Linked DNA regions of Homo sapiens: region 1 is linked to region 2. Evidence: fine-mapped expression QTL. A gene starts in region 2. The other region holds a variant in brackets. All regions are shown on one strand. Distances are between the middles of the regions. Region 1 has its middle 160 kb from the start of GZMB. Region 2 holds the start of CBLN3 (cerebellin 3 precursor).

Region 1 (12,578 bases), 360 kb before region 2:
AAAATACAAAATTAGCCAGGTGTGGTGACATGCGTCTGTGGTCCCAGCTACTCGAGAGGCTGAGGTAGGAAGATCACTTGAACCCAGGAGGTGGAGGTTGCAGTGAGCTGAGATGGCACCACTGCACTCCAGCCTGGGTGACAGAATGAGACCGTGTCTCAATAAATAAATAAATAAAAACAAATCTGCTCTGAGAGGCCACCACTTTTCCTACCTCGGTGTCTTGACTCACACTAGCTGCTGGGCCTGGGGCGCTTTCCCCGACAGACTCATTCAAATTCTACCTATCTTGCAGGGCTCCACTCAGTACATCTTCTTCCCACAAAATTCTCCCTGATTTTCTGCCAGGCTGAAGTAATCACTTACTTCTTCCTGTTCATGCTCATTGCCTTTCTTGGCACTCTAGAACATTCTGCTGTATATCACAGATGAGATCTGTCTTCTTACTAAACAGGTGGCTCGTAGAGAACTAAGACTAAATCTCAATTATGTCTGTGTATCTAAGGTCTACATTAGTAGACCGATAAATAGGTGTTCATTGATTCAATGAATGCATGGATGGCAACCTGCTACCATCACGGTTTATCAGTTCTTCCGTCCTGCTTTGTTGGGTTGGATGCAGCTTGTTCCTGCCAAAACTTATGTTGAAATTTGATCCTCAACATGGTGGTGTTGGGAGATGAGGCCTAGAGGGAGGTGCTTGGATCACGGGGGTGGATTCCTTATGAATAGATTAACGTCCTCCTGCAGGGGTGAGTGAGCTTTTGCTCTCAAGTGGATTAGTTCCTGTGAGAGTGGCTTGTTAAAGAGTCTGGCTTCCTCTGTTTTTCTCTCTCTCTTCCTCTGTCACCATGCAATCATTTTGCACATGCCCACTCCCCTTTCACTTTCCACCACTAGCAGAAACAGCCTGAGGCCCTCACCACATGCAGCTGCCCAATCTCGAACCTTCCAGCCTGCACAATCATACACCAAATAAAACTCTTTTCTTTATAAATTACCCAGCCTCAAGTGTTCTGTTACAACAATACTAAGTGAACTAAGATACCCCCAACCCAAGAAAAGATCAACTTTAAATATTTTTCTCTTTAACATAATTTTACTGCTTCTATTTATATATTAATTTTGATATTTTTTCTCTTGAGCCTAAACTCTACTGAGAAGTGTGTGTGTGTGTGTCTGTGCATGCACATGTTAGACAAGACATTTCTCCAAACATTAGTTTCCTCATTCATAACATTAGAAAGTAATACTTATTTCATAGGGCTGTTGTAAGGATTCAATGGGACAGTACATATAGAGCATTAACATGGTGGTTTGCACACTGCAGGCATTCAATGCATGTTAACTTGATCATGGTGGTTATATGTATGTTTGGCTATGAGAAAGCTGAAGTCTTCATTTTCGGAATAAAATAAATTTAAAAGATGATTGAAAATATAGGCATCTATGACTTATGCCAATGCATATCTTGCAAAGAATACTATAAACCCTTAACTGGTCATGAAGAAGAAAGAAGGTGAAAGCGTAACCTCCCTGGAACAGAAGGCCATTACATGGTGTGAGTGAGAGCCTAAGACAGAAATGACACCAACCGTTTTGACCAATGAAACTTTGTGTGGCAGTGGCTGATAGAAGTATGGCAGATTTTTTTTCTTTCTTCTTTTTTTTTTTTTTTTTTGCAGATGCCAGCAGCACAGCTAGTGCCTCCTTACTGTCAGGTGGGGTGCAGCTGGGGAGAACCCGCGGTAGAGAATGGGAGGAGCACACCTGGTCCTTTAGAAGAAGACTTGGACCTGGGAAAGGGTACCAGCAATGAACTCTTACATTCCAGATATCTCAATTGTATGCTGAAGGTTTCCTCCTAGACTCTTCTCAGGAGAAGTATGTATGTAGATCATGCATGTAATTGCCCCAAGGTGTGCAAACCAAGAGCCAGAAGAGACCTTGAGAGGAAGTACGCAGCCACAGCAGGTGAAGGTCTAAGTCACTTGGGAATAATTTATGTTTTCTTCTTTAACTGACTTGATGGTACTTTTGATAACCTATTCATGCACCAGAGACCTTCACTCCCCTGGCTACCTTAGAAAGACACTAAGACCACTTTCAGTTTAGTACAAGCAATTTTTTTTGTTCACCTGGACTGGAAACAGAACCATGAGAAACACTGTCAATGGCTGTGACCTTCAGATAATGGAGTACTAAGATAAACTAAAAGTCTGGTTTGAGAGGGTCCTTGTGGTAAGCTGATTAATGTGCCCCCAAAAGTGTCCACATCCTAATCCCTGGAACCTGTGAATATGTTACCTTACATGGCAAAAGAGACTTTGCAGACGTCTTCAAGGTAACAGACCTTAAGAAGAAGATTATCTAGGTGGATCCAATGTAATCACAAAGACCTGGATTATCTAGGTGGGCCCAATCTAATCACAAAGATCCTTATACGAGGGAAATAGGAGGGTTAGAGTCAGAAAAAGTTGATGTGATGATGAAAGCAGAGAAAGATGCCTTGAAGATGAGAGGAAGGGGCCACAAGTCAAGGAATGTAAATGCCCTCTTGGAGGTAGAAAAGGCAAGAAAATAGATTCTTCCCTAGAGCTTCCAGAGGAACAGGGCCTTACTGACACCTTAGTTTTAGTACGTCTGATGTCCAGAACTATCAGATAATAAATTGTTGGTTTAATCCACTAAGTTTGTACTAACCTGTTACAAAAGCAATAGGAAAGCAATACATTCCTTTACCCTCAAGGCAAAGTGTGTAAGCATTCAGGAGAACTTGCTCATAATCTGCGGGGTAGTGGTATCCCCTCAAAACCAGGGAGAACCAATACTTCCTCTTAGGGCAACCTTGGTCATGATCAACAAACATGTACTGAGGATTTATGGATCTGTCCTGGAAATGGAAATGTGAATTCAGACCTCAATCTCAAGGATATATTCATATAAAGAAAAATAAAATTTTAAGGCAAACTATGCTAAATTCCAAATGAGTGACAACTTCAGCTAGGACTTTAGGCATTCAGAGAATGGACCCATGCTTGACTGCAAGAAAATGCTGCTCCTCATATTTAGCCTTTCCACAATAGGCATGGGACTGTGCATCATGTTTGTATAGGACAGTTCAGGTTTATATCAATTGTCTTGGTGCAATCATGAATAGTGATTCCTTTCATTCTCAAAAGTGCCTGGCTTCATGGTAAACAACATGGTCACTCTGATAGGGTGTTAGACAGGAAGCCACTAGATTCACCATGCACTGTTAGGAAGAGCTTTGAGTTTGAATTTCAATCCAGTATCAAAAATGATCCCCAAGTTTTTGTGCCACTGAAATCGCAGTACAAAACACTTTCAGTAGATTGTAAGTAAAACAGACATTTCAATAATACTTGACTGTCTTAGTCTGTTTTTTGTTGCCATAAGAGAATAGCTGAGACTGAGTAATTTACAATGAACAGAAATTAATTTGGCTCATGTTTCTGGAGGCTGGGAAGTCTAAGACTGAGGCGCCACATCTGGCTGCATCATTCTATTGCAGAAGAGTGGAAAGGCAAGAAAACATGAGCGGGGAAGGAGGTGGTGAGGGGAGGTGAGGAGAGGAGAAGAGAAGGGACGAGAAGGGAGGACAAGTGAATGGAGGGGAGAAAAAAGAAGAGAAGGCGAGAGAGGAAGAGGGAGCCAAATTCACTTTTATTACAAAACCACTCCCACTGTAAAATATCCACTCCCCGGCTAACAGCATTAATCCATTCATGAGGGCTCTGCCATTAGGCCCCACCTCCCAACACTGCTGCCTTTGGAGTTGTTTTCAACACATGAATTTTGGGGAACACATTTAAACCATAGCATTGGCATACAGTATTTAGATTCTCTTACTGGCAAGTTGACATGAGGAAATTTAAATTACATTATCTAATGAGATACAGCGGTTTTAATACACAACACCTCCTACAACTAAAGCAGCTGGGGAGAAGGCCTTTGGTTTGCTTCAGATTGGTTTTGTTTGGTTTGGTTTCTAAGCCATTCTTATGAGCAGGATGGTGGTAGTGGGTAGAGGGTTGGAGAAGAAAAGAAGAGGAAGAGTTTAAGAGAAAGAATATAAGAATATAAGCAGGCTTGAAGAGAAAAGAAAAGACAGTGCTAGATATCTTGTCATATTTACCAGGCTTGAAGAGCAATCGTTGATTCTACCCCTGAACTTGATTCTCAAAGTGCTGTCCTTTCAAAGACATGTCATGCCCTGGGTGGAAGGTTAGAGTGGAGCACAACTCACTCAACTCTGAATCTGTTCTAGTAAGTTTCTTAGCAGTGTAAAGGTGAGAACAATGTGTGGTGCTTCGAATCTATCTGTCACGTCAAACCAGGTGTGGGCTGAGTTATGTCACTCAAATTGGTCCATAAAGGGATGAGAATTAAAATGCTGACAAAATGAGCACATCGAATTATTGAAAGCTATTTAATATGCTCAAGTTCACACCTACCTTTGGGAGATTTAAACGAGACTCCCTCTTCCAGCTGTTTTTTCTTATCTTCTGACCAACTTATTAACCAGGATTAATACAACATTTAATGCTGGGTGTCTTTTTTGGGCATCTCTTTTCTTTTTCCTTTTTTAATTCCTCCTTATATCTCTCCTTCCCTGGGATGATACCACTGGTGACTCCCGGGCCGCCCTCTAGTTGAGCCTGCAGGTGATTTTAGTCTAGTTTCCCTTTGCTTTGCACAACCTACCTCAACACTCCCTTTCCTTTCCCTTCCTCCTCACTTTTCTCATAAGATATTTGTGTAGTTTTGTGAGAGGAAGAAGAAAAAAGAGAAAAGAGGAACAACTGATGAGGAGGGAAGCCTGAGGTGAGGGGCACGAGGAGGAGTGAGAAAGGGTACAGCGTGAAGGAGAGGGGTGGGGGGTTGGAGGGAGGAGGGAAGAGTGGGAAGAAGCACGGAGTGGCATACATGAGGGGAAAAGACCACGAAGGAATCCTGGTCAGTCACAGACCCTGTGCCGCCTCCATGTTTTAATGTCTCAGACAAGCCGAAAACGGGTCTGTGGGAAGTTGTAACACTCACCAAACCCTTGGCAACAGCTATTCTTCACAGAGCCTGTGAACAATTGCCCACCTGCCAGTGTCTGACTGAAATAATAGCTGTACCTACAGGATCATTTGGAAGACAGATGGCGGAGGCAACCCCATTCATCTGCTGGCAGCCGTTTCATAACTCTCACTGTCCTGTCAGGCCAGGATGGGAAGGCAGAATGCAGCCTTGCTAATTACTGAAGCTCATTAGATTGTTGTTTTTTGAGAGACCATTCCCCTATCCCACCCCTGTCCTGCGCTTCCCCCCAAGCCCCAATGTGCCCACCCCCTCCCACAAAGTGCTTTCAGGAATACCATTGGCACCCTTAGAAAAAGCAGATCTCCAAAGTCTAAAAGCCTTAATGTTTGCTAGGTGGAGGGTTTGTTTTTGTTTTTGTCTAATATTTTCACTCTGTCCTCTTTCCTTCTTGCACATCCAAAAAGGGGTCCCTCATCTTCCCTAGTATTCACTACTTCCATGATTCTGGCCCATCGGTATTTATTTCAAAGACTGGATGACTCTTCCAATATTCCATTGTCGTTTTCTACTTAAAGTGCCATACACTCCTGTTATCATTTTTATAACGTGCATTAATCCAAAGGCTTTCTCTTAATGCAATGTGTATGGATTTAGAGAGCCTTTAAGAGCTCCGTATCATTTCAGTATATCTGATATCCTTCGTTGTCATTCAAAATCAATTTTTGAGAATTCACTATGTGGATGTGAAAAGGAGTGAGAATGGGGAGAAATGGAGAGATCTTACAAAGGAGGGCTGGCTTTATGAGCATTAACCAGTGCAGTGACCCAGGACCCCATGTTCCCTTTCATACTCTGCAGTCACCATCTTGAAATAATTAAACGTGTTTAAACAAGAGCCCGTCATTTTGCACTGAATTCCACAAATTATGTAGCTGGTTCTGCTTCAACTATTGGAAAAGTATAGAACTGCTGAGGGCTCAGGAAGGAGTACTTTCTGAGCCAAAGTTAAGAGGCTGGAAAGCCCACAGTAAACAGAGATCAGCAAGTGGAGAAGACAAAGATCAGACCATTCAGCAAAGAAAACACAGACAGAAAATATTAGCATCCATTAGAGCACTACCCCAGGAAGGGGCC[CT/T]GCATTTGACCTGCTGACAAAATCAAATTTCCAAGCCTGAAGACTGCAGACAGACCCCAGATCACTGAACACTCACCAAGGTGACAGCACCATCCCTGACACTTCTTTGGAAACAATTGGCTGGCGTCAATCTTTTCACTATAGTACCGATTTCACTAAATACCAGTTCTACTAAAACTTTAGCAGAAGATGCATCAGAAGGATTTGTAAAATAATAATAATAATAATAAGCCTGGAATGTAAGTGTGAGTCTGTAAAAGTAAGGCTTTAAATGCCACACTGAAGCGAAAGGGGAAGCTCCTGAGTATTTGGGGTGGGAAAGTGACTGGGAGCTCTGGCTGCTCCAAGAAAGGAAATATTCTTTCTAGACACATCTGGCCCTTTGTTCCTAAGGCTGGTACAGTAACAAACCACTCACCACCACCTTCCCCTGTGGCATGGTCCCCACTCACTACTCTCCTTTCTCACACTGCTTTTCCCACCCCATAAACATACACAGCAGAAGTCTCCTTGTTGTCTTCAGCTTTGGCCCTGCTGCTGCCTTGAACTCAAGTCACAGACCGTGCATCAGTCCATCACACTACACATGCCTGAATTTGTACCTCTGATCTCTTCCACGTTGCTTAGGTGAGTAATCCCGTACATAGCCCTGCTTGTGGCAGGCAGAATTCTAAAGACAGTTTAGTACTTAGGCAGGGCATGATCAAGGCAAGCTTTAGGATTAGATTTGAAGGGATAATGGATGAAAAATGAGAGATGAGAGTCAAGCCAACCAATTGGGAGATTATTGCAAATGACCAACATGAAGAAATAAGGTCCAAAATTTAATGGCATTAGATATGGATAAGAATGATAGATTTGAGAGTCTCTATGAAAGAAAACTGTCCTGACTTAGCAACTGATTGGATGGGAGAGAAGAACGCCTTCTCAAAGAGTTGAAAAGAATATGATAGAGCATCCATTAAAGTAAGTGGAAATAAATGTGTTCAAGTCCTGAAGATGACTCTTCTAAGATAAGAAGGAACCATGTTAGTTAAAATTGTTAGTTTCATGTAACAGCAACAATTCAATTCAAACTAGCTTAAGGGGCTGGAGAGTAGGAGGGTGCTACATATTAACATGCAGGTGTGTCATAGACTCTAGAGATGGAAGGTAGCAGAGCCAAGATGGTGGGAGCTGTCCTGCCCAGTGGGTCAGGCCCAGAACTGGGCAGGACAGCTGGACTGGCCCAGGTTATGGAAAGTCCCTGAAGCCACAGAGTGCTCCCTTTCCATCTCCCATCTCTTATTCTCCTGAAGACCATCCTTCTGGATCAGTTAGCCCACACAGCTGATGGAAGATAGCCCTAGCATAGCTGTAGGGTTAGAGAGAAGCCCCGGCTAAGCTGGAATTACTTAGTCCTGATTCCCAATCCCCAGGGGAGCTCATCATCAGGTTGGCTAAGATGGTTGTCCCACTTCTCACCACAGTGCCATACTGCAACTCTGTGGGAAAAGGGGAGAAGAATTAATTCTTGAGCAAGGCAGATACTCCCAAAGTTGTTTACCCTAAAAGCAGAAGTGGTATTTCAAATTTTAGTTTTCACAGACCCAAGAATGTACTCCTCTTTCTACACAGAAGAGTTTAGAATCCTGCAAAAAAGCAGCTGGATTCTAAACCCTATGCTCCCTCTAACTAGTGGTTTGAGTGACCCTTAGTACTTCTGACTATAAACTATGAAACTTGGCCCAGGTGATGCTGAGGGCTCCCATATTTAATGCCCAATGATTCTAAGTCCTTTTGAGAAGAAACAATGCTATATTGATCTAGTTCTCCTGTTTAGCTTTCCCTTGTCCTCCAAAGATCAGAAATAAAGCCTTTTACCATTAATCCTCTCATTGACTTATAAGAGGTAAAGAGCAGCCAAAGAAAATAGTTTGTAGTTTGTATTCCAAGAGAGCTAGACCACCTAAAAATCTCCTTAGTACTCGAAAAAATTTTAAAAGGAGCTTAGTTTTAATTGGCTTAAAGTCTCTTGACATAAGTAGTGGTTCTGTTTCCCACCACCACCATCAAAAATGTGTCCCTGAGACCCACTGGGAAGGACAGCTCCCACATCCTGGCTCTCTCCTGCAGTTTTTCTTAGAACTATAGAAGGTTAGACCTTCTGGTGCTTTAGTGCAATCCCTTCAATTTTTTTTTCATTTTTTAAATTTATGATTGATACAAAATCATCGCACATACTAATGGGGTACAACATGATGTTTCAATACATGTATAAATTGTGTAATTATCAAGTCAGGGTAATAAGTATATCCATCACTTTAAACATTTATCGTTGCCTTGTGAAGAGGACATTCAAAAACCTCTCTTCTAGCAATTTTGAAATATACAATGTATTATTATTAACTCTAATCATCCTACTATACAATAGAGCACCCAAACGTATTCTTCTTATCTAACTGTAGCTTTGTACCCATTGACCAATCTGAAACAATCCCCCTTTTCCCCCTACCCTCCCCATCCTCTGGTAACCATGATTCTGCTCTCTACTTCTATGAGAACAACTTTGTAGCCTCCATATATGAGTGAGATCATGTGGTATTTGTCTCTCTGTGCTGGGCTTATTTCACTTAACATAATATTCTCCAGGTTTATCCATGTTGCCACAAATAACAGGATTTTATCTATGACTGAATAATATTTCATTTTGTATATATACTACATTTTCTTTATCCATTAATCCACTGATGGACATTTAGGTTGATTCCATATCTTGGCTATTGTGAATAATGCTAGAATAAACATAAAAGTGCAAATATATGTTTGACATACTAATTTAATTTCCTTTGAATATATACCCAGTAGTGGAATTGCTGGATCATATGGTAGTTCTAGTTTTAACTTTTTGAGGAACCGCCACACTGTTTTCCATAGTGGCTACACTAATTCATATTCCCAGCAGCAGTGTGTAAGTGTTCTTTTTTTCTCCACTTCCTTGCCAACACTTCTTATCTTTTAATTTTTTGATATTAGTTGTATTAGTTCATTTACACGTTGCTGATAAAGACATACCTGAGACTGGGAAGAAAAAGAGGTTTAATGGACTTACAGTTCCACATGGCTAGGGAGGCTTCACAATCATGGCGGAAGGTGAAAGGCACTTCTTACATGGCAGTGGCAAGAGAGAGAATGAGAACCAAGCAAAATAGGTTTTCCCTTCTCAAACTATCAGATCTTATGAGACATATTCACTGCCACGAGAATAGTAGGGGAGAAACCACCCCCCTGATTCAATTACTTCCCACCAGGTCCCTCCTACAAAAGTGGGAATTATGGGAGTACAATTCAAGATGAGATTTGGGTGGGGACACAGAGCCAAACCGTATTATTCTGCCCCTGACTCTTCCCAAATCTCATGCGCTCACACTTCAAAACCAATCAAGCCTTGCCAACAGTCCCCCAAAGTCTTAACTCATTTCAGCATTAACTCAAAAGTCCAAAGTCCAAAGTATCATCTGAGATAGGGCAAGTCTTTTCTACCTATGAGCCTGTAAAATCAAAAGCATGTTATTTACTTTCTAGATAAAACAGGAGTACAGGCATTGGGTAAATACAGCCATTCCATATAGGCTTCATAGATATTATCTCTGTCCCCAAAGGATTAACAATTAAAAACCAAAAATGAAACAAATATAGAAAGAAAAGGACTATAAAATATGTGCAAAATGAATATGCAAGGCTATTAAACATTGCCTGAGGATTGATAATGTCATCATAGCCAGTGGGGAGTCCAGGGTCATTAAAAACTAAATTATTTGTTAAAGGCCATTTTCTCAATGTCTGACTCTAGTCCATGCCAGATTTTAGTAGGGCACTTGGCCCATTCTGCTGTTATTTTCCTTGAAGTTCATTTCTCGCCTTACTCTTGTCTTGGAAATGTAATGCATCACTGAGGTTGTCCTGAGTTTATGTTGTATTCACTTTTAATGCGTGCTAACTGATTGGAAATGAGAAGCAGATGGACACTTGGACCACAGATTTACTCCATCTCCTGTAATTAGATGGTGCCAATTAAGGCTTCCATGGGGTCCTTCTCCTCACTGCCAAGTAAAAGAGCTCTCCAGTGGGGCTCCTGAAAGCATTTGGGAACTAATGGTTTATTCAGTTCCTCCTTTGCATTTATTCACGGATACTGAACAAACAGAAGCCAAGTTGTCTTTGTCTTTTTTTGGTTTTTCTCTAACAGCTTCATCTTTTGACTTTTTTTTGGCAAGAGTTGAAACTGAATAAAGGGGATGGCCCTTGGCTGAACTTTGCTTCCTATTTTGAGTTAGCAGAATTTAGTTGGGGAAGGTGGGGCAGGGAGTGGGGACTCTGGGCAGAGAGCTGCAGAGTCTTAAGAAAGTACCGGGCTCTGAAACTCAGCCTCTAGCTTCTTCCAACACAGGAGGACAGGCAAGAATTTGGAGACTGACAGACCTTAGTTTGAGTCTTGGCCTGGTTATTAGCTGTAAGCTGTGTTATTCTGGTAAATGGCTAAACACAAAGATCCCAAAATATATAAATAAAGCCCTCATTTGTAACATGTGCCAATTTCTGTGATGCAAATACTCCCACCATAGCTGATTTCAAGCTACCAATGTGATGTCGCAGAATGCAAAGTTGGGAAGAGACTGGTACTATTGGCTCTCATAACCCATGTAAGCAGGCTGTAGCACATCCCTGGCTGTGATCCCCAGCTTCTTCATCTGTACAAAAGGGACAAGGTACCCTGTAGGGTCATTTTTAAGATTAAAGCAATAACTGCAAAGTGGCCAGAACAAAGCCTACCCATCCTAGGAGCTCGATAAATTGTCCCTACATATTATTATTTTAAGCTGGGCCTTAGGAAGTGGCTTTACACTGCTGAGCACTCCAAGAAGTCAGAGCCTCAGATTTCAAATTTTGGCAACTAAATTTCATTTCATAGGTATGACCAGGAATCTGGGGAATTGATTCAGCTAATCAAACTCATAAGAGGCATTTATATAAATCACAATGCCAATTTACTACTTTGATTTAGAATTTATATAGAATAATGATTTCCCAAACCTGAACTGGGTCACATGCCCTAATAAAGGATTTCTTTTCATGGCTTAGGAAGTTGCTCATATGCAAAGTGCTATAAATGCATAAATGTTAATTATATTTAAATATGGTTAAATAATTATCTTGATTAAAAAATTAAATTGAGGCTGCCCCAGAAATTCCTGGGGCTATGTTCACATTAGTATATTCCCGGCCTGAGAACCAAAACTCCTATTCTGCACTGGTCTCCTTGCAGGCAGCTAGCTCTTACGTTCACCCTGTGGAAGACTGAATAGGTGGACATGGTTAAGTGGAGAGTATATTTAAGCATCTCTGAGGGAGTACTGCCTGGGGTTTCCCAAACCACAGCTATAATGATAGATTTTAAACTCACTGAGTAAAGAAAAAAAGATGGAGATTACCATTTCCATTTTACTGTTATGCAAATTGACACATGAAGAGGCAAGGACATATAGAAAACTACTAGAAGAGCTCAGACCAAAATTCAGATTTCTGAAGCACACTTTGGTGCTCTTTCTTCTGTCCCTGGGATGATCAGTTGGGCAACACAAAAAGCATACAGTTCAGTGCAGGAGAAAGCCACATATGTAGATGACTATTAAAAGAGAGTGAGAATTGCTATGACAGAGGTGATGGAAGCATATACAGGATGTTATGGAAACACCATCAAAGGAAAACTAACTGAGAATGGAAGAGGAGATTGGGAATGCGACATGGCTGGGGGAGGTTCCAGAGGTGGGGACCTCTGAGCTGAGTTCTTAAAGGATGAGTAAGAATTATCTCGGGAGAGAAGGACATTGCAGGTTGGTTTCATTAAGAAACAGATTCTAAAAAGGGTATTAGCACATAGAGATTTATTAAGAAATGCTCTTGGGAGGGAAAGGACACAGGATTGGAGTGAAGGAGTAATTGAGCTGTAATACAGTCCAAAGTCCTCAACCAATCCCGAGAGAGGTTAGAGCTGAGGTGGCCCATTCAGAGTTTTTCCAAGCAGGAGTGAGGGAGCCTGGCCATTATACCACCTTGTTGGTCAGTCACTAAATGAGGGCTGCCCCTGAAAAGAGGTGTGACTTAGGGTTTGCCATTTCCTTCCAAAGAAGGCTGATAGCTAAGGGCTATTTTCCAGCAGCAGGTGCTGGAGAAATCAATCCTTCATTCCTGAGGGGAATCTGGGCAATAAATCAGCTTCTGATTATAATAAACTGGCTTTTATCACAAGTGGTAGCTCTATCTGTTTTCTATACAGAGGAAAGCACTGAAGAAATAAGCAGTGATGCATGTGGTTGTCATGCCAATGGTTCAGTGTTTGTCATGGATGGGA
Region 2 (12,578 bases):
AGAGTTTTCACCCCATGGCCAGAGCAGAGCTGGCTTTAGAAAAACATCTGCATCTGTGCCCAGTTCTCAGCGGGAGGGCTCCCTCACCGTTCTCTGATGATTGCCATCCACTTCTCAGACTCCTCCGCCAGGTCCCGGAACTGGTCATTGGAGACAATTATCCCATCTGTCTCTTCAGCCAGCTTCACCATGAACCTGTCTCCAAAACCACAGCAACCGAGAGAGGGTTGAAAAATTACCTACTGGGTACAATGTTCACTGTTTGGATCATGGTTACATTAAAAGCCTAGACTTCACCACTATGCAATATATCTATGTAGCAAAACTGTATTGGTATCCCCCAAATCTACAAAAATAAAAGTAAAAACCACAGCAACCATTTGGGACTCTCCAAGGCCCCAACCCCAGAAGTTTTACTGTCTCCCATAGGCCACTTCTGGTGATGGAGATCTGGCCCCCTACCTCACCTTGACCCAGCTACAGGCAACTGACTAGATGCAAGTGCCATGGCCTAGAGAGGAAACAAAGATGAATCCAAGGTGGTCTCCCAGTAGCATCCTATCTGCCAACCATAGTCCTTCACCCAACACTTTGTGCCTCGTTAGTAAACAGTAAGATCTAGCTCTGTCTTCCACCCTGCCCAACCAATCCCTTGCAAATCCAACATGCCTTTCCTTTGAAAAGCCTTGTGCTCTGCTCCCTTCCTTCCCAGGCCCACCATTACCACCCCAGTAATTCAGATATTGCAACTGAGATTATGCATAACCTCCTAACAAGGGGGTCCCCGCCTCTGACCACTCACCCACCCTCCAGTCTCCCCTGCCCTGCCCCAAGAAAGCATGCTTATCACCTACACAAAACTCTTCCACACTTGCCCTTTATTTACCAAATAAAGTCCACACACCCAGGCCTGGCAGCTAAGGCCTTCTACAGGCCAGCTCAAATCACCCTTACAGCCTTATCTCTCCCAATATTCCCTAACCCACTCTCAACTCCAGCTAAAATCAATAATCAGATTACACTCTGCTCTCCACATATGTCTTATGCTGACTTCCATATTTCTCCAACTATTTCCTCTATCTGGAAGGCACTTCCCAAGACTTGCTAAGGAACAGAATTACCAAGGGAACTTTTTTAAAAAATGCCTGGGCTCCATTCAGTAATTCTGATTCCACAAGACAGGGTAGGACTCATGAAGTGATGGGTGGTGGTCTTTTTAACAGATTTAGAAACAGAGATCCAACCCATCCCAGTCTTCTCAACACAAAAACTCACAAATCTCTCCTTTCCCACAAAACCCCAGCCAGAATGGGGCTCCTTTCCCTCTGAGTTCCTGTAGTGTTTGATTTATGGTTTCTTTCGGCTCTCTAGTCAAGAATCAGATCTTGTTCCCAGTGTTCCCACCTCCTCCTGCAGGCCATGCACCTAGTACTAAGTGAGCAGTCAGTATTTGAAAGATAGTGTGGTATAGGGGGAACTGGGAGTCAGGATTAGGTGTGACAGATATCAGGCTCTGAGCTTCTGTCTGGGAAACAAATTAAGGGAATGACATACAAATGTCTATGGCCGGGCTTGGTGGCTCACGCCTGTAATCCCAGCACTTTGGGAGGCTGAGGTGGGCGGATCATGAGGTCAGGAAATCAAGACCACCCTGGCCAACATGGTGAAACCCCATCTCTACTAAAATGCAAAAAGTTAGCTGGGCACGGTGGCATGCACCTGAAGTCCCAGCTACTCGGGAGGCTGAGGTAAGGGAATCACTTGAACCTGGGAGGCAGAGGTTGCAGTGAGCCGAGATCGTGCCACTGCACTCCAGCGTGGCGACAGAGCAAGGCTCCGTCTCAAAAACAAACCAAAAAAAAATTATATGGTACACTTATGGTATGCAAATGGTATTTTCCAGTTAAGCATATTTTACTATGATCGCATTACACAGTATGTTGTTCAGCAACATTCATTCCGTATGCCTACGCTGTGTACCACTGTGCTTATTCACTGTTACTGGGCGAATTCCCAATTTATATTATGTTATCTGCCAACCAGGTCCCACACAACTGGGCAGACACATGCCTTTAACATTCATTAAAACGAACTCAATCTTCAGTTTCAATTCTGTTTCAATGCAGGTGTGGAAAGAAGATTCCATATCTTGGGTAATCTGTGACATCTAGATATAAATAGAATAACATTGGGAGAACGTAAACTGCTTTTTTGTAGAATACCATTTGCTTGTTAAGGAATAGAAGGTAAGTGTTTGAAAAGACAAAGTATATAATCACTATGGTTTGGAAAAACTAATTTTTAAAAACTGTATAATGTCCTAGAGAATAAAGAACTTGTAAATTTTTTAACTTGGCTTTCTAAAATCTGCTCATTTCTCACACCACCTAGGCAGACTATGGTAGAAGTGTGCCTTGTATTTTCATTCAAACCATCTGGCAGCTTTGAGGTCTAATTCCCCTTTGCTAAGACAGGTAACCACTCTGACCCTCTGTCTCCACGACTGTAGATTGGAGATATACCCGCTGCCACACTTGAGTAGGTCTGTGCAAAGTTAGGATGGAATGTCACTGTACTCTTGCCTAGCACCTTGAGCAAGGCAAGCACATACCTTATCTTTTTCGTATATTCACAAGGAGGGTAAATGAATGGAGGAGGACCCTGAGACAAAGAGGTTAATTCACTAAGAAAAGTTCCACAGTCAAAGTCAATGAGTAGTGCTACTTGAGGCTCAAATTCAGATCTTCCAATTCTAAATCCAGTGATCTTTCTATTATACCATGTTTTGTACAGTCCTATTATTCATGCGTTGTGTTTCTCCATTTTACTTGTTATTTTGACCTTTACTCTGGTTTTTCCAGAATGTTAGGGAAATTTCTCTGCATGTTTGGAAATTCAGGTTATAAGAAGACATCTGTCAGCTACTTATGTAACCAGCTTTCCCACCTTTCCACTAAACCAGTATTTTCTAGACAGTAAGGCACTATATAAATACAAGGTATCATTTTGTTTGATGAATGATGAATAGACAAACATGGTTGTCTACAGTTCATCTCATCACACCTGCAGGGCAGGTTTACCTACCCAATCATAAGGCACACAGAGGAATAACTGGCCCCTTACCCACCACCAAGGCTTAGAAACAGCGTAAACCACCAGGAGCTTTTCTCTCTCCCTCAGTCTTCCATAGGGCTCCTTCAATATCAAGCCTGGGGCCAGGAGAGGAGCAAGTACCTGTCATCATAGGAGGAGATCCTCTTGCCATCCATGACTCGTGAGGGTGTGAGGGAGAGCAGGCTGAGGGAATACAGCTTTTGCAGGAAGTGACTCTCTATTGAAAAAGAACATAATAGGGTTCTCCTCAAAGTGGAAACAGAGCCTATCCTGGGACACTGAAGACCAGGCCCAACTCACCTCTGACTTTGGCATCCTTACTGAAGCGCCACTGAGGCACAAAGACAGTTATGTCACGGTGACCACGGTCCCAGAAGTACTGCACAGCAATGGCAATGCCCCGGCTGGAGAAGTAGTGCTGGAGGCCATGCCTGTAGTGGGAGGGGGTCGGCCAGAGGAGGGGCTTGGCACCCTGGCTACAATGCCAGCCCCTCAGGACATATCCTCCCTCTCCTAGGCCCTTAGCCCCACCAGGTACTCACACCATGGCCACGTTGCTGCCGTCAATGACAATATGGCGGAGGTCTGGCTGGCCAGGCACATTGGCAAGGCACAGGGTGAAAGGATCCTGCAGGGCCTCCTTGAAACGCTGTGTGCCAGTCACCAAGTTGCCCCCTCGGGCGCCTCGTTTCCATTGAGGCCCCCGACCCCGTGCCATGCCCTGCTGCTTGTCTCCCCTGTCCCCCACGTCTCCCCGGTCTCCGCAGTCACCCCGGTCTCCACAGTGCCATGGGGGTTCCGGTGCAGGTGGAGGGCTGGGCACCCTCGGAGGAGAGGCATTCCCATTGTGGAGCCGCTGGAGGAGGGAGGCTCCTCGGGACTGAGCTGCCCTGTGACAGGAGCCATGGGCACCGGGAGGCTCACGGTGGACACAGAACCCTCCTCCTCCCAGAGCTATCTCCTCCTTCCCCAGGGCCTTCCCTTTCAGGGGTGCTGACTCCCTTGCCCCTCCACCCACTGACTGTGGCCTGAGGGCCACTTCTCTCTCCCACGCCTCTTCCCCAGGCAACTCCTTCCACCCCCAATCCATCTCCCTGGGACCACCCTGTTTCCCTCCCTCCTTCTCCACAGCGTAAGTGTCTCCCCTTGCTCCCCTGCAATCTCCGGGTCCCATAGATCCAGTGTCCAGGGACTCCCTGCCGTCACTAGGGGGAGCTCTCACTCCTTGGCACTGAGCACCCAGCAAGGCTGAGCTCCGCCCCTCCCAAGAAGCCAGTGCTCCTGGCCCCTGCCCACTAGACGCCTCCTGCACCAGACTCAGCAGCTCCTCCTGGACAGCCAGGGGCAACTGCAACAGAGCCTCTCTATGGGCATCCCCCGGGGACTGCAGCAGGGCAGAGAAGTCTCTCAGCACTCCAGTACACTGAGAGGCTCCGGAAGATGGTCCTGGCGTGAAGTCCCAGCTCAGCCGCTCTGCCAGCTCTTCTACCCGGCTCTGAGCCATGACAAAGGCTTCAGTCAGGCCACTGATCATCAGTGAGCCTGGCGCCCTGGGCACCAGATGGGCTGACGTGCTCCAGGCCAGGCAGTCAAGGAAGAAGCCCTGGGCTCCCAGAAAGATGCAGTGCAGTTTGGGCGGGTAGTGGATTTCATCCTGCAGTTCTGGGCTGCAGAGGCCCTTCAGGTACTCCTGGTTGGGAGGAAGGGAAGGTCAGGAAAAGTAAACTAACTGGCCCAGATCACCCCTCCTGGCTCCTTGCTCGCTCCTGAGCTCCAGGATGTCTGGAGTATCCACATGATGTTATTCCCATTTTAGAGATAAGGAAACTGAGACTCCCATCACAAAGCTGGTACATGATTGAGCCATCCTGGAACCCCAGCCTAATCCCAAAGGAAGCAATGTGGCCCAGCCTCCCACCCCACAGTGCATTCCTTGGTGGGGCCAACTTGTTCAGCCAGATATCTCTATTCTCCCAAAGAGCACAGAATGATTTTTGCCAGCCTGGGCCATCACAGAAGAAATTAAGCTGAAACTGAAAACAAATATAGAGTTGGAAAGTCCCTCAAAACTCAGGGGCACTGAGGTTGCCAGTGAGACAACCAAGAAGTGGAGATCCTCCCCAGGCCCCTCCTCTTCCCTGCTCTCCTCGGCCCTGCTCTCCTCCGCCCTGGGGGAAAGCGTCCTTGGTGCCTGGAGGGATGGGGGAGAGAAGGCGTTCACCTTGGCTCTGCTGGCGTTTTCCTTGGGGCCCTCCAGCTGCAGCCAGATGTGGGGGTTGTCCGGACAGTCCTTCGGAAGGACGCTCACCCCCACGCTGAAGATGCGCTCCACATGGGGCTGCTGTTCCCGAACCTTGTTCTCAGCCTCCGCAGACACCGCAAAGCGATCTGGGGACGCGGGGCGGGCCCCCCAGGTAGGCATGGCTGCTGCCCCCAGCCCTGGAAGGGGAGAAGGCAGCTCAGAGCCTCATTGTACCCTCCATCCAAATCCTGGTTCCTGGGACTACACCAGCTATCAACAGGTCGCACCTAGTTAAGGCTCTGGTAAACAGCCCCAGGAGGTGACAAGCATCTGAGTCCACTGGAGGTAGGGAGGGTGTATGTCACGCAGGCCTCTCCGGAGAGGAAGTCCCGGTAAACAAGGCTGTCTATCGAGAGTGGGCGTCTGGGCTTTGGAAAAGGATGACCACAGTCCGGAGCAAGAAGGGTGGGGGGGCTCCAGCTCGGCCTGGAGGCCAGAAGGAGTCTCCTGGGGCACTCTGAAGCTTCTTAAGGACGAATCCTCAGCAGGGGATTGAACTAGGCTGTCCTCTGGGGGCCCTGGTCTGCCATTTCCAAGGTTCAAGCCACTCCCACCCCTCCCCCAGCCGTCCGCTGCCCCTCTCCGTCGGGCCAGGAGCACCGCCCAGGGCCCAGGGGCCGGGCCGGGCCGGGCCCGCCCACCGCGGACTGGGGCAGCCACCCCGGGCCGGGCCTACTCCGCACCGCGGCCCCCGCTCCCCGCTCCCGGGCGCGGTGGAGGGGCGCGCCTACCGCCTCCGCCGCCCGCGCCGGCTTCAGGTCCTCTCAGCGCCCGCCAGGCCCCCGCTTTGCCCGCGCCCCCAGCCCAGGGGACAAGGGCAGGGGGCCCGAATCTGGGCGGGCCTTCCCGGGTTCCTCACCCAGCGGGGACCTCTCTTGTCCACATCGCACGCAAACTGTTTCTTGAGTCACTTCCTGGCCTGGGGCGGAGTCAGCCCAGCTCCTCCCGGCTGCGCGCCCTCCTCCCAACCCCGCCGCCGCGCCCAGAGGCCCCGACGGGCCCGCTCGGCCTAGTCCCCTCGGCGGCTCCAGGGCTCGCCCCTTGCGCTTCTCACCAGCCCTCCCGTCTGTCTCCCGGCCCTCAGGGTCCTCGCGCATTCTGCGCAGTTACTTCTCGGAAAGGGGAACCATGCGTTGAAAGTTGTTTCCCGCGAATAAAGATGTGGCCGACCAAAGAGGCAGCGTGACTGGCCCACTGGTGCTCTAGGCCCAAGCACTTTCCACCAAAGCAATCGTGGCGGAGGGGGTAGGCGGGAGGCGGGAGGCGGAGGGTACCCGTGGTGGAGTACCCCTTTCTTCCAACAAACGGAAAGATGCCACGAAGAAGGGCTGTTGATTTGTGGGGGATTTTGAAGAGAGGAAGAGTAGGAGGAAGGGGTTGAGGGGCTGCCTCTGGCATATGCACACACTCACACATTCTGTCACACCCGTCACACACACATACCATGTTCTCCATCCCCCCAGGTCCAGCCCTCAGTGCTGTCCCATCCAGCAGGGCTGCCCTGAAGCTCTGGCTGCAGCCCTCCCGTCCAGTGGGCAGGCGGCTTCATCCCTCCTTTCTCTCCCAAAGCCCAACTGCTGTCACTGCATGCTCTGCCAAGGAGGAGGGAACTGCAGTGACAGCAGGAGTAAGAGTGGGAGGCAGGACAGAGCTGGGACACAGGTATGGAGAGGGGGTTCAGCGAGCCTAGAGAGGGCAGACGATCAGGGTGCCGGCGGTGAGAATCCAGGGAGAGGAGCGGAAACAGAAGAGGGGCAGAAGACCGGGGCACTTGTGGGTTGCAGAGCCCCTCAGCCATGTTGGGAGCCAAGCCACACTGGCTACCAGGTCCCCTACACAGTCCCGGGCTGCCCTTGGTTCTGGTGCTTCTGGCCCTGGGGGCCGGGTGGGCCCAGGAGGGGTCAGAGCCCGTCCTGCTGGAGGGGGAGTGCCTGGTGGTCTGTGAGCCTGGCCGAGCTGCTGCAGGGGGGCCCGGGGGAGCAGCCCTGGGAGAGGCACCCCCTGGGCGAGTGGCATTTGCTGCGGTCCGAAGCCACCACCATGAGCCAGCAGGGGAAACCGGCAATGGCACCAGTGGGGCCATCTACTTCGACCAGGTAATCCCCCTACCCCTGTCCAGGGGACCTGGAAAGACCCTGCAAGGACCTGGAAGCAACTGTCCAAGCCCACTTTGCTGTCTCTGAGGCTTTAAGAAAACAGCTTCCTACATCTTTCACTAATCTGGCCTATTGCCCCACCACCCCACCGACGGTTTCCCCTCCCTCCACCCATACGCAGCCCTCTCCTTGCCCCTTCTCACCATTTCTTTTGAATCTGTTCACTCCTATTCACTCCTACTTGCCACTCCTTCTATTCATTACTCACTGCCCCTGCCCCTAGTCCCCATGGTACCCCTGAGCCATGGGCATTTCCTGAGCCCCACTCAGCAGGCTCTGCTTCCCCCAGGTCCTGGTGAACGAGGGCGGTGGCTTTGACCGGGCCTCTGGCTCCTTCGTAGCCCCTGTCCGGGGTGTCTACAGCTTCCGGTTCCATGTGGTGAAGGTGTACAACCGCCAAACTGTCCAGGTGACCTCAGCACTGGCCCCCATCCCCGGCTCAGGAGGGTGGGGAGGGGGAAGAAGGGGAGCCCAGCTGACCTCCGGGTGGACTCTCCATTGACCTGTGTCCTGGAGGCCAGGACCAGGGGAGGAATGGGCCTGCCTTGCATTGAGTGTGGAGGATGTGCAGAGTCCAATGCTGGCCGCCCCTCAGCCCTCCCGGGAGAGCCCATTAAAACCCAGCTTCCCAAGAGGAAGCTCCTGGGAAAGTGGGGGGTCCTGAGCTAAGGGCTGGGGAATGGGGGCTAACTGGGCTCCCCTCCCCAGGTGAGCCTGATGCTGAACACGTGGCCTGTCATCTCAGCCTTTGCCAATGATCCTGACGTGACCCGGGAGGCAGCCACCAGCTCTGTGCTACTGCCCTTGGACCCTGGGGACCGAGTGTCTCTGCGCCTGCGTCGGGGGAATCTACTGGGTGGTTGGAAATACTCAAGTTTCTCTGGCTTCCTCATCTTCCCTCTCTGAGGACCCAAGTCTTTCAAGCACAAGAATCCAGCCCCTGACAACTTTCTTCTGCCCTCTCTTGCCCCAGAAACAGCAGAGGCAGGAGAGAGACTCCCTCTGGCTCCTATCCCACCTCTTTGCATGGGACCCTGTGCCAAACACCCAAGTTTAAGAGAAGAGTAGAGCTGTGGCATCTCCAGACCAGGCCTTTCCACCCACCCACCCCCAGTTACCCTCCCAGCCACCTGCTGCATCTGTTCCTGCCTGCAGCCCTAGGATCAGGGCAAGGTTTGGCAAGAAGGAAGATCTGCACTACTTTGCGGCCTCTGCTCCTCCGGTTCCCCCACCCCAGCTTCCTGCTCAATGCTGATCAGGGACAGGTGGCGCAGGTGAGCCTGACAGGCCCCCACAGGAGCCCAGATGGACAAGCCTCAGCGTACCCTGCAGGCTTCTTCCTGTGAGGAAAGCCAGCATCACGGATCTCAGCCAGCACCGTCAGAAGCTGAACCAGCACCGTATGGGCTAGGGTGGGAGGCTCAGCCACAGGCAGAAGGGTGGGAAGGGCCTGGAGTCTGTGGCTGGTGAGGAAGGAAGGAGGGTGTATTGTCTAGACTGAACATGGTACACATTCTGCATGTATAGCAGAGCAGCCAGCAGGTAGCAATCCTGGCTGTCCTTCTATGCTGGATCCCAGATGGACTCTGGCCCTTACCTCCCCACCTGAGATTAGGGTGAGTGTGTTTGCTCTGGCTGAGAGCAGAGCTGAGAGCAGGTATACAGAGCTGGAAGTGGACCATGGAAAACATCGATAACCATGCATCCTCTTGCTTGGCCACCTCCTGAAACTGCTCCACCTTTGAAGTTTGAACTTTAGTCCCTCCACACTCTGACTGCTGCCTCCTTCCTCCCAGCTCTCTCACTGAGTTATCTTCACTGTACCTGTTCCAGCATATCCCCACTATCTCTCTTTCTCCTGATCTGTGCTGTCTTATTCTCCTCCTTAGGCTTCCTATTACCTGGGATTCCATGATTCATTCCTTCAGACCCTCTCCTGCCAGTATGCTAAACCCTCCCTCTCTCTTTCTTATCCCGCTGTCCCATTGGCCCAGCCTGGATGAATCTATCAATAAAACAACTAGAGAATGGTGGTCAGTGAGACACTATAGAATTACTAAGGAGAAGATGCCTCTGGAGTTTGGATCGGGTGTTACAGGTACAAGTAGGTATGTTGCAGAGGAAAATAAATATCAAACTGTATACTAAAATTACATTTTAAAAGTTGAATAATGTTTGAGTTAAATAGGAAATACCAAGGTGAATTTGTGGTTTTGAAAAGAAATAACTTTTTGAACTGTCACTAATCCTAAAAACAACATCAGGAACAATCTGATATCCATTCTTAGAAACTGGATCTTTGCTTCAGATATTAGTCACCATTAAAAAAAAATACCAAAAACCCTCAGGTTCCTTGGAGAATAGCTGCACACCTTAAGTAACTCCAGGCCCAGAACATGTTGTTGATGACAGAAAGCAAAGATACTTTTTAAATGTATAAAGTAAAGCTGAAAAGGCAAAGGAATCAATTTAAAGAAGCTCCCACTTGACATGCTTTGACAATTTGATTATCAAAAGGAAAATAATACAGTTAATTGGAACAAGGTGAATTTTTTAAATCCATGTACCTGCAATGATATTCAAAAAGGAAGAAGTCACTATAAAGTGTGACAAAAAGTAGTTAATATGCTGAGTGAAGAAGAGTGAATATAGGCTATTTTTAGTGAGTCGTGATAAGTACAAGAACATAAATATAGTAGGCATTTTGTCTATTTGCAAGGTACATTTGTTTTTCTTTATCTATGTAAGTAGGGAGGGGTGAGTACAGAGAACTGTGAATAATTCCAAGAAGATCTGGCACTGTGCCAAGAATGAAAGATACTGGTGGAACTATTTGAGTATATTTTGCAACTAAGAAGAAAAACAGTCCAATGGCGTGTTATAAGACAATGGATTAGTCAGATGTCCAAAAGACAACTGTTCACTGCTCAGGCTTGATCGTTCATCTCCTAGAAAATGGATCCTCTGTATTACCCCACTAATTATAATGAGATATTAATTAGGCAAAATGATTAAGAGTAGGTTTGGCTGTAACAGTAAAACCCAAAATAAGAATAGCTTAAACAAAATAGGAAATCATTTTTGTCTCACATAGAAAAATCTGTAAATAAGAGTCCAGGGATGGATGGCAGCCTTATGATCATTTGAAAGCCCAGTCTTCTGTCTTGTTCTACCATCCTTAGCTTGCCACCTCATGACCCAAGACGGCTCCCTGAGCTCCAGACATTACATCAGCCTAACAGGAAGGAGGAAGGAAGAAACAACACATCTCTTTCCTTGAAAGAAGCTTTCTGAAATATGCACCAATATTTCTGATTGTGTCTCAGTAGAATTTAGTCACCCGGGCTCACCAAGCCAGGGAGCTTGGCTAGGAGCTACAGTGTTTATTCCAGGCAGCCATGTCCAGCCAGAAGTTGGGAGTTTTATAACAAGGAAGAAGGGGAAATTAGCTATTGGGGAAGACAACTAGAAGTTGTTTTTTATTGTTGTTTTTTGAGGCAGAGTCATGCTCTGTCGACCAGGCCGGAGTGCAGTGGTGCAATTTCAGCTCACTGCAACCTCCACCTCCTGGGTTCAAGCAATGCTCATGCCTCAGCCTCCCGAGTAGCTGGGATTACAGGTGCGAGCCACCACACCCAGCTAATTTTTTGTATTTTTAGTAAAGATGGGGTTTCGCCATGTTGTCCAGGCTGGTATCAAACTCCTGGCCTCACGTGATCTGATTACAGGTGTGAGCTACCACATCTGGCCACAAAGTACTACCAACTTGGTGGCTTAAAACAACTGTTTATTACCTCACAGTTTCTGTGGGTCAGAAGTCCAACAAAACGTGACTGGCTTCTCTGCTCAGGGTTTCACAAGATCAAAAGCAAAGTATAAGCAGGGCAGCCTTCCTTACTGGAGGGGAAGAATCCACTTCTAAACTCATTTAAAGTTCAGTTCCTTACGGTTGTAGGACTTAGGTCCTAGCCCCCTCCATTCTCAAGCCAACAACTGCAAGCCAAGTCCTTCTCACACTTTAAATCTCTCAGGCCTACCTTTCTACCACATCTCTCTGACTTCAGTGTAGAAAGTTCTCTGAGTTTAGGGACTCGTGTGATTAGGCCCACCCAGATAAGCCAGGATAATCTCCCTATTTTAAGGTCCACAACCTGAATTGCATATTTGAAGTTCGTTTTGCCATGTAACATAACATATTCACAGGTTCCAGGGATTAAGGCATGGACATCTTCAGGACATCTGCATATCAGAGTCACTAAACTCAAAGATGGCATCATGTAGAGAAAAGGCATGCAGCTACAATACCACTGCATGGAAAACGTATGGGCTTGAAAATTTCCCATGATATATACAAGATAAATACCAGCTCAGATTTTAATCATTTTAGAAGGTGAACCAATTCCCAGGTCCCAACCAAAAATTCATTGATTAATAATCCAAAACTTGATCTACATTGAGATATATTTTTATTTTAGATATCTAAATTCAAAAATTGCCCTGAGCTGAGATAATGTCTCTCAGGTCTACCACCCATTTTTATAGTGGATTTAAGCATAGGTGTTATAAACTTTATAATCCTTATAATGGTATGTGTCCCTTACCAAAATGAAGCTTTTAGAGAAACTGACATATTAGTGATTCAGTTGAAATATTTAGGAGGATTTGATTGTTTTTAATCAACGTTTAAATCATTTAACTTGTTAAATGTATAGATTTTGATTTGCTGGTTATAGAAATCGTGTTCAAATATTTAGACAATTTTTCCTTCAGTAGGTTTGTGAATAGATTAAACAATAAATAAAGCACAGGTGATGGTGTGTGGTCCTCTCCAGGTACCAAAAGCTCCTCAGACTTTAAGGATCCTAACAACAGACTCCAACTATTCACCTTCCCTATGCCCATGCCCTGGCAGCTGATTCCTACAGAGAAGTCCCACTGATGAAGGATTCAATGTGGATCTAAATCCATGGCCTCCAGCCACATCTGGTCCTCAATCCTATAATCCT

Evidence for each region.
Region 1: its variant is fine-mapped to the expression of CBLN3 in minor salivary gland (GTEx, PIP 0.97).

What each region holds. Positions count from the first base shown.
Region 1 is chr14:24,787,390-24,799,967 of GRCh38, reverse strand. No RefSeq gene overlaps it. Among named protein-coding and RNA genes, the nearest start is that of GZMB, 160 kb to the right of the region's middle. The variant CT/T (reference allele first, on the strand shown) is at 6,187.
Region 2 is chr14:24,423,689-24,436,266 of GRCh38, reverse strand. It overlaps CBLN3 (cerebellin 3 precursor), which reads left to right and starts at 6,599. Exons shown (of 3, transcript NM_001039771.3): 1 at 6,599-7,512; 2 at 7,862-7,981; 3 at 8,281-9,722. The coding sequence starts at 7,213. The coding sequence ends at 8,478. It overlaps KHNYN (KH and NYN domain containing), which reads right to left and starts at 6,313. Exons shown (of 8, transcript NM_015299.3): 1 at 6,148-6,313; 2 at 5,336-5,553; 3 at 3,657-4,804; 4 at 3,415-3,545; 5 at 3,235-3,331; 6 at 88-195. The coding sequence starts at 5,536. RefSeq lists enhancers at 3,895-4,456, 4,457-5,018, 5,057-5,166, 5,019-5,582, 5,727-5,906 and a silencer at 5,937-6,476.